4 linked regions of the Homo sapiens genome follow. The protein of the gene in region 1 interacts with the protein of each later gene in a pairwise test. Each region holds a gene or a part of one and is shown on either strand. Other genes may lie near its edges.

What was found.
Region 2: the proteins of FNDC3B (region 1) and RUSC1 interact in binary tests that used the Homo sapiens proteins (3 or more experiments, as listed by UniProt).
Region 3: the proteins of FNDC3B (region 1) and TOX4 interact in binary tests that used the Homo sapiens proteins (3 or more experiments, as listed by UniProt).
Region 4: the proteins of FNDC3B (region 1) and L3MBTL3 interact in binary tests that used the Homo sapiens proteins (3 or more experiments, as listed by UniProt).

Annotation. Positions count from the first base shown.
Region 1 is NC_000003.12:172,343,578-172,347,077, forward strand, and holds part of FNDC3B (fibronectin type III domain-containing protein 3B), read left to right. Parts: intron 1-508; coding exon 509-681; intron 682-2,749; coding exon 2,750-2,863; intron 2,864-3,500. UniProt on the Homo sapiens protein: May be a positive regulator of adipogenesis.
Region 2 is NC_000001.11:155,327,394-155,330,893, forward strand, and holds part of RUSC1 (AP-4 complex accessory subunit RUSC1), read left to right. Parts: intron 1-756; coding exon 757-882; intron 883-3,009; coding exon 3,010-3,178; 3' UTR 3,179-3,500. UniProt on the Homo sapiens protein: Associates with the adapter-like complex 4 (AP-4) and may therefore play a role in vesicular trafficking of proteins at the trans-Golgi network. Signaling adapter which plays a role in neuronal differentiation.
Region 3 is NC_000014.9:21,480,195-21,483,694, reverse strand, and holds part of TOX4 (TOX high mobility group box family member 4), read right to left. Parts: intron 1-3,500. UniProt on the Homo sapiens protein: Transcription factor that modulates cell fate reprogramming from the somatic state to the pluripotent and neuronal fate. In liver, controls the expression of hormone-regulated gluconeogenic genes such as G6PC1 and PCK1.
Region 4 is NC_000006.12:130,025,081-130,028,580, forward strand, and holds part of L3MBTL3 (lethal(3)malignant brain tumor-like protein 3), read left to right. Parts: intron 1-3,500. UniProt on the Homo sapiens protein: Is a negative regulator of Notch target genes expression, required for RBPJ-mediated transcriptional repression. It recruits KDM1A to Notch-responsive elements and promotes KDM1A-mediated H3K4me demethylation.

The sequences.
Region 1 (3,500 bases):
TTGATTTAAGCTGTATTAGCGTTTCCTGTTGTGTCCAGCAGTTTACAACATGTATAATTACAAGTACAAATGTACAGAACTCTCTAGCAGACTATTTTTTCCTACCACTTATGTCTAAAGTATAATAAATTGTGCCAATTTGGGGTCCTGTATTTTGATTTAGCATGACCTTTGGTTTCCAATTAAAGAGATTTTTCTTCCCTCTTTTTCTTCCATTTACCTAGCATTAGAATATGAAGAAATATATCTAATGTTCCTATAATTTTGGGATTATTTTATCAATGTAATTAAATAAACTTCAGTGGACCCGCTTTGGAGAGTATGGATAACATCATTCAGAAACTTTTATTTTTATATCTCTTTTTTGGTGGGCATGGATTCTTTTGTAAGGGAGATACTGAGGCCGGCCACCTATGTGATATTTTGCTCAACTTGTGTGAAATCTGGTGCACTTTGGTCAACTGGAAGCACAAAGTGTTCTAAGATGAAAAAAATTCTTCATTCCCAGATGTTCCTGCATCGGAAAGTGGCTGTGAGGTCTCAGAGTACAGCGTGGAGATGACGGAGCCCGAAGACGTAGCCTCGGAAGTGTACCATGGCCCAGAGCTGGAGTGCACCGTCGGCAACCTGCTTCCTGGAACCGTGTATCGCTTCCGGGTGAGGGCTCTGAATGATGGAGGGGTGAGTATAAGCCCATACACCATAACCAGAATCAGAATGCATAATCAGAACCCAAAGTGCTAGCACTTCTGTCTCTAGCCTCCTGAAATTTTTGACAGTCTTGATGCAACCTTGACAACCATTAATGCAGTGTCTGTAAATCTTAATTCTGAGTTGATATTGTTGTGATTTCATATAGACCCAGCATTAGAAGTTTTCTGTTTCTTTTGTCCTCATATCATTCTATGAAGACAGCACTCAAGGTTAATAAGGATATCACCCTGTAGATATTTTCGACAGTTTTTGGAAAATTTCCTATTCTATTGACTTTATCAGTTCAGGGAAATTAGGATTAGATAATAGTTCTAATAAAAGTTTTATACTGTCTTGTCTAAATGAACCAGCAACATCTTAGGTCAGTTTTTACAACTAGAGAAGGGTAGTGGCCAGGGACACCAGCTTGTTTTTGTTTTGTTTCACGTGAAAACTACAGGACTCTCTCCTTCTATTGCTCCATTTGGAGTTGTCAAGTTGAGCTATCAAAAATTGAGAATATATATGTCTATGTTATATCCATAAAGGTTGTTGTCCTTTTTTTCTTTGAAATTGCCAAATGATGTGGATTTAGGGGGAGATGAATAATGAGCAGTGGGAGTCCCAGTAACTGTGAGGCTTTTGGGTGGGCTCAGAGATTGATGAAGCATAAAAGGGCAGAAGCGTGTGGGTAAAGCCAGCTAAATGCCCCGTCCAAAGTGCCAGTGGTTTGTGTAGATGGGCTCCATGCAAATAAATAGAATTAATTAATTGATGATTTTTTAAAAAAATAAGACAGCCCAACTTGCAGTGACTTTTTGTTTTAAGTGAAAGCAAGTTTATTAAGAAAGTAAAGGAATAAAAGAAGGGCTATTCCTTAGGCAGAGTGCCCAAAACTGGATTTCTCCTAATTCTCCAATAGAAAAGAATTTCAGACACAACAATGATACTTAAGTGAAAACAAAAAAGTCTGAACATTAACGCCTATGTACCTGAACTTATAATCATGTAAGCGAAAAGAAGATGGATAGTGATGAGCACACTGTTGTGTCTACCCCATTCTCTCATCAACTTTTCAGTTACTATCTGCCACAACAAAGATAAATGTGCAACTGGGCTGGTGTGAGCTGTACTTTTCTCAGCCCTTTCACTGATTTATCCTATAAAGAAACTATCTTCAGCTTGGGTTTATTCCTGTTGTATTAGAAATTAACCATATATATCGCTGTAGTCACCTTCTGAGGTCCATTTCAGAGAGCTTCCCCAACTCCCCAGCATCTTTGCATGTTATGTTGAGAGGTGGTTTTTTGTTTCCCCCCTCCCCGCCGTCTTTTTTCTCTCATTTTGACAAGGACAGTCATATATTTTGTTAGCCTGGCAAGTTTTTACTCTGCTCCAAACCTTTGAAGTATCAAATATGCCACCATTAAAATGGGTGGTTCAGGTGGCTGTGACTCTCTCAAAGTGTGGTAAGTCTCTAGCAATTCCTGGCTCTGAGCAGTGTGGTCACTGATGGTAACATCAGGATTGCCGTGGATACCCTTGAATAGGTGAGGTGATGGGAACACACTGAGAAAACATTACAGAAGCATTTATTTTCAAAATGGAAAATACCGGTAACTAGAAGAAATACCTAGAATTTGATCACCAACAATTCCAAGTATATTTTTATTCATTAAAAATTAAACTGCAGTGGGCATCTGACTTAGTTTTCTTGGATGTCCTCTGAGAAATATGAAAGCAGATTGCCCTGTTTTGTCAAAAATCAGCATATTTTTATTTCATGTCCCAAGAAAGGGAAAATATTTTGTCAACCAACTAATTATTTTACAATTAAAAAAATGACAGACATCTACTACTCAGGGACTGTATATAGGAGAAAAACTTACACACATTGAATTGAAAGTGAAAATCATTGGGTAATATTTGTTAATTAGTTGTGTTGATGATGATGTTAGCCTAGCTTTTATTTGGTTATAAGCTTTTGTATGCACACACATTCACAAACACATACACGCATATATACATACGTGTGTGTGCGTGTGTTTTCTTTCAGTATGGTCCCTATTCTGATGTCTCAGAAATTACCACTGCTGCAGGGCCTCCTGGACAATGCAAAGCACCTTGTATTTCTTGTACACCTGATGGATGTGTCTTAGTGGGTTGGGAGGTAAGTCAGGCATATTCTGCATCAACTTCTGTTTCTTCTACTTTACTCCCAAATACAAATACCAATTATAAGGAAGCTGCAAATCCAAAATGCACATATAGATGATTTTTTTTTTTTTTTTGCTCTGTGTACTATAGTAATCACCCTTGGCACTTGCCACTTGCTTATATTATTTAGGGTTGTGGAAGTTTTACTGTAGTCAAAACTGAGAGGAAATGGTTTCTCATGCCTTTCTTTTTGTAAAAAATTTTATTTTATTTTACTTATTTTATTTTTTTGTGTGACAGAGTTTCAATCTTGTCACCCAGGCTGGAGGGCAGTGGCACAATCTCGGCTCACTGCAACCTCTGCCTCCCTGGTTCAAGTGATTCTCCTGCCTCAGCCTCCTGAGTAGCTGGGATTACAGGTGCCCACCACCATGCCTGGCTAGTTTTTGTACTTTTAGTAGAGATAGGGTTTCACTGTGTTGGCCAGGCTGGTCTCGAACTCCTTATCTTAGGCAATCCACCCACCTCAGCCTCCCAAAGTGCTGGGATTACAGGCATGAGCCGCCGCACCTGGCCCTATTTTATTTTTAAATTTCTAAATCTCAAAAAAAATTTTGTGGGTACATAGTAGGTATATATATTTGTGATCG
Region 2 (3,500 bases), on another chromosome or scaffold:
CACTAAAATCTGACATACTCAAATCCTACAGTTGATGTATAGGAAAAGACAGCCCTCAGTATATGTGGTATTACATCCTGAGAATACAGTATTTTTTGTTCGGTTGAAAAAAACCTGCATATAGGTGAACTTGTGCATTTCAAACCTGCTTTGTTTAAGGGTCAACTGTATTTACTATCTGGTCGTTTAGAAAAATGAAAAACAGCCTGGGCAACATGGTGAAACCCTGTCTCTACAGAAAAATACAAAAATTAGCTGGGCATGGTGGCACACACGTGGTGGTAGTCCCAGCTACTCTAGGAGGCTGAGGTGGGAGGACTGCTTGAGCCTAGGAGGTCAAGGCTGCAGTGAGCTGTAATCACACTGCTGCATTCCAGCCTGGGCGACAGAGCGAGACCCTGTCTCCTCTCCAAACAAACAAACAAAATGCCAACCCCTGCTCCAGGCTTCAACAACTGGTGGCTCTTTAATGGCTTGAGATACTCTCTAGTGGCCATTTCATTCTGAGCCTGTCTAGACCCTGCTGGGTCCATAGGTTCCTTGTGATTTGTGGTGTTGTGGACTTTTGTTGTCATCTCCCTCATCAGCCTAAAAGTGCCTGTGTCCAATAATGAACACTCTGCCCTCAGCAGTGACTAACCCCTGACCTCTTTTGAACCACAATTAGGCCCCTTAGCCTCTCCCTCCCTCCAAACCCCAGGGTTCTTGGGTTTTCTGGAAGTGGGTTGAGCTGTGACCCTATGTCCCTTCTTTTAGGAGACCATCTAGCTGGCTGCCCCCGACAGTGAGTGTGTTGGCTCTTGTGAAGCGGGGGGCACCTCCCGAGATGCCTTCTCCTCAGGAGCTTGAGGCCTCAGCACCCAGGATGGTGCAAACCCATAGGTAAGGAGGATTGGGGAGAATGCACTAGTGTGTAACCATGTATGCTATCACAGCATGGATGGGAGGTAGTGTAAAAAACCCTGGGCTTTAAAATAAGACCGTGCTTAGTGTGCATTGCAGCTTTTCTATTTATTATCGATGTGTCACTCATTTGAGCCTTGGATTTTTTTTTTTTTTTAAGAGACAAGAGTCTTGCTCTGTCGCTCAGGCTGGAGTGCAGGGGCACAATCTCGGCTCACTGCAACCTCCCCTTCCTGGGTTCTCCTGTCTCAGCCTACTGAGTAGCTGGGACTACAGGTGCCCACCACCATGCCCGTTTAAGTTTTGGAATTTTTTTTTTTTTGAGATGGAGTCTAGCTCTGTCGCCAAGCTGAAGTACAGTGGCATGATCTCGGCTCACTGCAATCTCCGCCTCCCAGGTTCAAGCAATTCTCCTGCTAAGCCTTCTGAGTAGCTGGGATTACAGGCACATGCCGCCACGCCCAGCTAATTTTTGTATTTTTAGTAGAGACCGGGGTTTCACCATGTTCGCCGGGATGGTCTTGATCTCCTGACCTCGTGATCCGCCCGCCTTGGCCTCCCAAAGTGCTGGAATTATAGGCGTGAGCCACTGTGCCCAGCCAATTTTTGTATTTTTAGTAGAAACGGGGTTTCACCGTGTTGCCCAGGCTGGTCTAGAACTCCTGACCTCAGGTGATCCACCCACCTCAGCCTCCCAAAGTATTGGGATTACAGGCATAGCTACTGCACCCGGCCAGGATTCTTTCTATAAAAAGGATATGATGCAATACCTTTTTTATGGTTATAGAGACTAAACATAATTTTTTTTTTGAGACAGAGTCTCACTCTCGCCCAGGCTGGAGTGTAGTGGCATGATTTCGGCTCACTGCAACCACGCCTCCTGGGCTCAAGTGATTCTCCTGCCTCAGCCTCCAGAGTAGCTGGGATTACAGGCACCTGCCACCATGCCTGGCTAATTTTTGTAATTTTAGTGGAGATGGGGTTTTGCCATGTTGGCCAGGCTGGTCTTGAACTCCTGGCCTCAAGGAATCTGCCTACCTTGGCCTCCCAAAGTGCTGGGATTACAGGTGGGAGCCACTACACCTGGCTACTAAACTTTTTTTTTTTTTTTTTTGAGACAGTGTCTTGCTCTGTCGCCCAGGCTGGAGTGCAATGGCATGATCTCGGCTCACTGCAACCTCCGCCTCCTGGGTTCAAGTGATTCTCCTGCCTCAGCCTCCTGAGTAGCTGGGACTACAGGCGCCTGCCACCATGCCCAGCTAATTTTTTATATTTTTAATAGAGATGGGGTTTCACCATGTTGGCCAGGATGGTCTCGATCTCTTGACCTTGTGATCCACCCACCTCAGCCTCCCAAAGTGCTGGGATTACAGGCGTGAGCCACCACGCCTGGCCTAAACATTTTATAAAAGCATTTGGCGGCCGGGCGTGGTGGATCACCTGAAGTCAGGAATTCAAGACCAGCCTGGTCAACATGGTGAAACCCCGTCTCTACTAAAAATACAAAAATTAGCCAGGCGTGGTGGTGGTGGGCACTTGTAGTCCCAGCTACTCGGGAGGCTGAGGCAGGAGAATTGCTTGAACCTGGGAGGTGGAGGCTGTTGAGATCACACCACTGCACTCCAGCCTGGACAACAGAGACTGACTCTGTCTCAAGAAAAAAAAAAAAAAAAAAAAAAAGTAGATGGAGTAGTAGGAGATCCAAACACCAAACAGGTTTTGGTGATGGATTGGATGTATGGAGTGAGATGCCCAGGTTTTTACCAGGGGCAAGTGTGGGGAGAAAGTGGTGCTGTTTACCACTATAGGCGACACGAGGAGGAACTGGTTTTGAGGGTGAGTCATTTCATTTGCCTGTGTTGAATTTGAAGCACCATTGAGAAGTGCAAATAGTGTCAAATAAGCAGCTGGAGTGGGTTTGCCACTCAGGAGAAGGCTGGGGCCCCAGATAGAATCACCAAGTTGATGAATGGTTCTCAAGTCCTTCCAGAGCCCAGTCAATGTCCACTGAGCCAAACCAACAAGGGCACTCTAGAGGTGACGCCTGGGGACGGCTGGGCAGCCCCACCTCACCTCATCCCAGTATCTTCCTCTGGCTCCCCTCAGGGCAGTGCGGGCTCTCTGTGATCACACTGCTGCAAGACCTGACCAGTTGAGCTTCCGGCGTGGGGAAGTGCTGCGTGTCATCACCACAGTGGATGAGGACTGGCTCCGCTGTGGGCGGGATGGCATGGAGGGTCTGGTGCCTGTGGGGTATACCTCCCTTGTTCTGTAGCCCTGGGACCCTTTCCTGCGTATGTGTCTCCTTCCTGTCACCTGGGAATGGAATGGCCAGTGAACACCATCCCAGAAGCATTTTCCCTCTGCAAAATGACGTTTCTTCCCACGTCTGTTTCTGCTAATATTTAAAATAAACTTTCCTTCTTCCCTCCTATACCCACCTGTAAGGTGAAATCTGCTCTTCTTCCAAATATATAAAAAAGGAATTGCCCTCCAGGTAATCCCTTTCCTTTTTCCCGTCTATATAAGGGAATGTCTTCCTTCCTATCTATCTGCAAAATGGAAATCTAGACCTCCTTCTTCATCCATAAGTGGAC
Region 3 (3,500 bases), on another chromosome or scaffold:
TTGTTGTTTTTTTTAATTCTGAGACAGGGTCTTACCCTGTCGCCCAGGCTGAGTGCATGGCTCCATCACCACTCACTGCAGCCTTGAACTCTTGGGCTCAAGTGATCTTCCCACCTTGGCCTCCCAAAGTTCTAGGATTACAAGTGTGAGCCACTGTGTCTGGCCCATAATTTTTGTTATTGTGTGGAAGTTCTTAACTTCCAGTCCATGACTCTTTCTGATATTTCAGTTTAGGTTTACGTGAGCATTTTTAAGGTAGAAGGTACAAAGATTTTTACCAAATTCTCACACCAAAAAAAAAAAAAAAGTTATAGGAACAGGAAGAAGGATCAAGGGAAACATTTACTGTACTAGACTAATAGTAAAATAGTAGTTTCCAAAATTTTCAAGATACAGATTGCTTTGGCAAAGCAAAGATGCCTATCCTTTTCTGCTTACCACAACAAAACAGCAACTTTGTCAGGATATAAAAATGATACTATTTGTTAATGAGAACCCCAAAAGGATAAAAATTCATATCCAAAACAAGGGACCAGTGTTCCACAAGTGACTACCCCTCATAAACCATCTGGAATGTTCTCCTTGTACACTAAAAAATTAGACATGGCTACATAAAATGAACTGGGAAATGATAAAAAAATTAGACATGTTGAGATTCCATTATGTAGGATCGACAAGGCATTCTTTCTATACACCACCCCTTGGGATGTGTAAAAGCTTTGTTATTCAGTACCTATGGCTTTCATGGTGGTTTTCTGGGTTCTGTTTTATTTCTTCCTTTAAGTATGAATAGTAAGATAACTACAATTATCAAGAATACAGAAGGTTAAAAAAAAAGGATAGGGTAAACCACATGCTATAGTAAAAGTAGAGATTCACTAAAATCTTTTTCACTACAAATGATCTGTAAAATTATGGGTAAAATCCAAAAATGAATACCTAAACTTACTTTATTTTAGCGGATTACATAACCAGATCACACTCTAGACTGTTAAATATAAAACAAAACTAAAACTGAAGCAAATATTAAAAAGAAGTGGTTTGGACACAGAAAGAGAAAACAGGAACATGATATGCAGTTACCTTCTAACTTAGCTTTCCTTTCCTCCTTTGTTCAATTCCTGGGCCTTTTTGAAGGAGGGGCTGGTTTGGGAATTACAGTTTATAAGCAAAGATGCTTAAATATCAAGAGAACCAAAAAATCAAAAATACCATTTCCCTCCCTTTTTTCATTCTCTGATCCCAAAACATACAATCTATTATTTCTTTAGCTTATTATATAGATCATTCACTTTAGAGAAATTTATTTTAATCCAACACCTATTTATTCAACAATACGCTGGTACTATGGGTCATTTAAATAACTGCTCTTAAAAACTGATGTAGTAGTGAAAATTTTACCTATTTAGCCAGAAATAATGAACTGGTTCTAATGTTAGTTACTTTTCCTACTGAAGGATGGGTACCTTTATGCCTAATTATTTCCCCAATGTGCTCTAAGCATAATACCACTATATTAGAGCCAACCTGAAAAAGAGAAACAGAAAGATTAAATTGCCTTCAGATCATAGAACTTTCCGCCTCAGGCAATGCTCTCTCTGGACTGCTACTCTTTTGAAATTATTACTATTTCTTATTTCATTGATATACAACTTATGTAAGGTACATAAATTTTAAGTGTATAGCTTAATGGATTTTTTACATATGCAAACATCCAAGTTATCACTATCCAGATCAAAGATGCAGAACATTTCCTTGTGCCCCTTTCCAGTGAATACTTCCTTCCCTTCACAACTGGTATCACTATTTTGATAGTTCAGTTTTGCCTATTCTTGACCCTCATTAAAAAATATGAACGAATATAGTGTCTTCTCTTTTATGTCTGTCTTTTTCTACTCAACAAAATATTGTTTAGATTATCCAATTGCATTTATAATTTAATTTTTTATATCTGTGTAGTATTCCTTTTCACAAATACACCATTTTTTTCTGTTGATAGACATGAGTTGTTTTCAGGGTTAAGCTAGTAAGAATAAAGTTGTTGTGAACATGTTTTTGGTGAACATATGCAATCATTTCTGTTGTGTACATATCATGGAGTGGAATTTACCTGGTCATAGGTTAGGGGGGCATGTTTATCTTTAGTAGGTACTGCTAGTTTTCCAGTGGCTCAATTAACTTACACTCTCACTAGCAATAATTAAGTTATCCACATCCACTGGGCAAGGTGGCTCACAGCTATAATCCCAGCACTTTGGGAGGTTGAGGCAGGTGGATCACTTGAGGTCAGGAGTTTGAGACCAACTTGGCCAACATGGTGAAAACCGGTCTCTACCAAAAATACAAAAATTAGCCAGGTGTGGTGGCACATGCCTGTAATCCCAGCTACTCAGAAGGTTGATGCACGAGAGTTGCTTGAACGTGAGAGGTGGAGGTTGCAGTGAGTCGAGACCGCACCACTGCACTCCAGCCTGGGTGACAGAGCAAGACTCTGTCTCAAAAAAAAAGTTATCCACATCCTTGCCAACTCTCACTGGCAATTTGGACGTCTTCTTTTGTGAAGTGACTGTTCAAATCTTTTGCCTCCTTTTATTTTATTTTTTTGAGACGGAGTTTCTCTCTTGTTGCCCAGGCTGGAGTGCAATGGTACAATCTCAGCTCACCACAACTTCCACCTCCCAGGTTCAAGCGATTCTCCTGCCTCTGCCTCCTGAGTAGCTGGGATTACAGGCATGCGCTGCCACACCCGGCTAATTTTGTATTTTTAGTAGAGAAGGGGTTTCTCCATGTTGCTCAGGCTGGTCTTGAACTCCCGACCTCAGGTGATCCACTCGCCTCAGCCTCCCAAAGTGCTGGGATTACAGGCATGAGCCACCACGCCTGGCCTTTGCTTCCTTTTAAACTGGATTCTTTCTTTTACTCTGCAGAAGTACTTGATATATTCTGAATATGAGTTAGATATATGTATTGTAAATATCTTCTCCCAGTCTGTGGAATGCCTATTTGTTAATCATGTTTTTTGATGAAAGGAAGTTCCTAATTACAGTGGAGTCCAATTATTCATTTTTTTTAATGGTTAGAACTTTTTATGGGCAACTACTTTTTTGGGGGAGGGTCGGCAAAGTCTAAAAATTTCCTCTCTTGTAAAAAAAAACTTTTTTTTAATATTACCTTTACCTACTTCTAAGATATATTTGGAATGGCTCACAGTAAAACCATAACCCCATTAAAATAAAAGTTATAAACAACCATTACCACCGCTACCAAGGGAAAGGGAAGGTGTAGAAGTTGTAATGAGAAAATGGAGAACTGTTAACAATGACAGGAGCCTTAGGCAAAGGAAGCTACTGAAATTGAGCCTAAAACTTAGCTATCAGTTTCTTGGCAAAATAAAATAAGATTTCTTAAGTCACAAAAACAAAAACAAAGGACAGATTCAAACCTGGAAAGTTTCTTTCTTTTTTATTATAATATTACTTGTTAATACTTTAAATTTACTT
Region 4 (3,500 bases), on another chromosome or scaffold:
TTTGACCAGTGTGTTCACAAGGTAACTTTCTGGTGAAGATCTACACTATCTTCCACTGTTACCACTTGCCACTATTGAGGGATTTGTTCCTCACAAGGATTTGGGAATGCTTATAGTATAGGTAAAGATAGTGTCTTTAGAGAGAACTATTTATATGTTCATATGGGTGCACATTTATATGTGACATCTTGAAGTTCAGCGGATCCATGGAAGATATATTTTCTAAAGGGCTTCATTATCTAACAGGAATATTCTCAGATTATCTCTTTACTGTATTAAATTATTTCATTGGTGGTTGTGGATGTAAGTCAATAGTGGGAAATGATGAACGGATTTGTATTGACTGTGGCAGCTATGCAGTGGGTGGATGAAAAGAAGCACCAAGAAAGGGTATCCTTGATATATAACTAAGCTTGATTTATGAAGTAAAATTGGGAAAGACCTTTAGAAAATTCCCATTTGGGAGACAAGATAGTTTGGAGGAATGAACAAGGATCTTTGAGAGGAACTTGAGTAAAGTTAAGTTGGGTGATCTTGGATGAGGGAACTTTCCTCATAAACTGTAGTTTCTTTCTGAGTAGACTTGGAATTGATTAGTTGGATGGTGATTATAAGAATGATATGTATATTATATGTAACAGTAAAATGCCTTCTGCATTATTATTCTTTCTCCCATATATACTGTAAATCATTGTTTTGTGTTCCACCAACAGATACTTATTGAACCTCTATTTTGTCTAAATTACTGTTGTGAACTGCTTCACAAAATCAACAATTACAGCAGGGTTGAATGAATGTATGTGTTGGGGCTACAAAGACATCGAGCATCAATCCTTGGGCTCAGTATATTCCTAATCTAGTTGGGGAGATAACCCATACACATACGATGGCAATTAACAAAACAAAGCCATGGTTAAGTGTGGGTGAATGGTAGATAAATGCTGTAGACACTGTGATGGCATCTCTGGATGTGGTGGTAAATGTGTTCCTGTGATAGGACCCGGCAGATGGGGTTGCTCTTTTAAAAACCCTATGAAGTGTTGATATACAATGTTAAGTGCAATTGTATATCGAGTGCCTTCTGAAGATCAAGCATTAAGCTAGATGCTTTATATTTATTTATTCATCCAAAAAATACTTTGAGTGCTTTCTGTATGCCCAGGTACTGTTCTAGGCACTGACTATTACCTCTCATACTTTCACTAACCTTGAGCACTGGGTATTATTTTTTGTCTTTTAGAGCAAACTGGTGCTCAGAGTTACTTAGTAACTTGTTCATATCATGCAGTTTGAAAGGGGTGGAATCAGGGAAAATGATACTGGCATATGATTGATGTGTCTTTAGGTTTTTGATTTTCAAAATAGTAACACATAGAATATTTTAAAAACAACACATTTCCAGATTAAGGTATGTGCTCTTTTACATTGGTTTACTAAGATGAGCAATAATGAACAGGTATAAGAAAAATAGATGGGAAGAAAAACTGGCTTTACTTTCTTCTTTTTTTTTTCTTTTTAAAACCAAGAATTGAGAAAAGACCAATTATTGAATTATTCTGAAAAGAACACCTTGGTCTAGCCCATGGCCTTGAAATGATCACAAACTGTTGATAAAACATTACTCAGAATAGGCTTGGGAATCACTGGGCTTACTTATATAAAGATTTCATTTGTTCTCTATAGGAAGAGACCCAATAAGGTAGTAGGACTAGTTATGAAAAATATATATATAAAGCATCAATCAATGAAAGAATGGGACCTGCATCTACCAAGGCAGGCTCAGTAGGTTATGAAATTTACTCTAAAGCCAGGATTGTAAAAGGAAAGAAGAAAATTAAGAGAGACAATGGTGGGGAGAAAATGGAGGGGTGGTGTGGTAGAAATGTGTCCTAGAATCAAAGTAAAAGATGAAAACAGGGAATATGACTAAGATCCTGAGCAAGAGTGCTATAATTACTGGTGTTATACACTGTAACCAAAAGAGTATGTCCCATGTTTGCAAAATGAGGTGAAGAGTCTATTTTGACTCATCGGGTGGTTTTGTATTGCAATGGGAATTATATCTCTCTGTTATATGAGTTACGGTGGATCAGGCAGTTCTTCAGTTTGACTTAGAAGGATGCCATTGTAGGCATTGATTACAAGGTAATGGGCTGTTTCTCCTTTGTTGAAGTTCTATTTAAAACATTTTTTGAGCGTATACTATGTACCAGACCTTTTAAAGGCTGGACCATAGCTTTATATTACATAAATTTTGTGGAATTAAGCTAATTTAGTTACTAGAACATTTTGGGTATGATTGCTTAGGTACCAAAATCAGTTGATTATTTTTCTCCATCCATTACACTGTTGAACCCTGAATAGTGAATTGAAATTCCTAGGTGGTCAATCTGGTCTGGTTGTTAAATGATCTTAGTAATTCACCGTATTGGTTTGTGGTCTAATTGGGTGGACTTGAGGCTTAGCTGTTCAGTCTATTGATAAGGAGGTTGGCTACAAATGGTTATCAAGATAAGCCTGTAGACTTCTGTGAAAGAAAAATCTAGCCAAATCTAATTCATTACATGCAAAAGAGAAATCAAGTGTAAATCTTAGCTTTATGTTCTATAAAAATATGAAGCAAAATAAGAAAAAAGATACTACTTTTAGCATTAAAAATTATGAAGTAAAATAAAAAAGAACAAGAGAGTACTTTTAGTTTTTCTTTTAAAATTTTAGTTCATGCATATTTAGCATATGCATAGAAATATCTGTGTCAGGTTCTTGTTCTTTTTATGGCCCTTGAATCCCTCTAATGGGTGTAAAATTTCTATTATTACCCTTCTAGTATAGTATGTTGATGATATGCTAGCACTTTAAAAAATATGTCTGACTCAAATTGAGGTATAGTCTGCACGTTGAACATGAATTTAAAATAAAAGCATTTAATGAGAGTCTATTAAATATGCCATAGGCCCATTAATGTCAGTTTGTGATTTCACTTTCTGTGTACCTTTTTTTTTTTTTTTCTTGAAAGGCATTTTTCATTTTCTGTTCCTTCTTTAGAGGAAGTAAGTAGGTTAGGCCACAGAATCTCAAATAATTCATCCTTCTTACAGTAACACAGAAGGGCAGGAAGTTGAGATTTTGTAAAGGTTACCTTTGGTGACTACCCTTTCTTTGCACATGATCTCCATGGCAGACAAGGTAGCAAATCAGAGAGACCATTGCAACATTATAAATAGGATCATTCACATTAAAATATGACTAGCTGATAAAGGGACAGTGTTTTTGAGAAAATATCAATAAGATGGAACCGCTGTAATGACTGATTTCATGTTTAAAGGCAGCATGGATTAGTTCACACTCAGGTGTCTCCTCTGCAGGGATGGATGAGAACAGAAGACCCAACTTCTCAAGGATTTGTTCTTGATGCTGCTAAGATTTCAGTTCTCACATTGAAATAATGATCTAGAGTTTTTCCTGCCTAAAATCTATGAACTTAGGTCCTTAGGACAGAT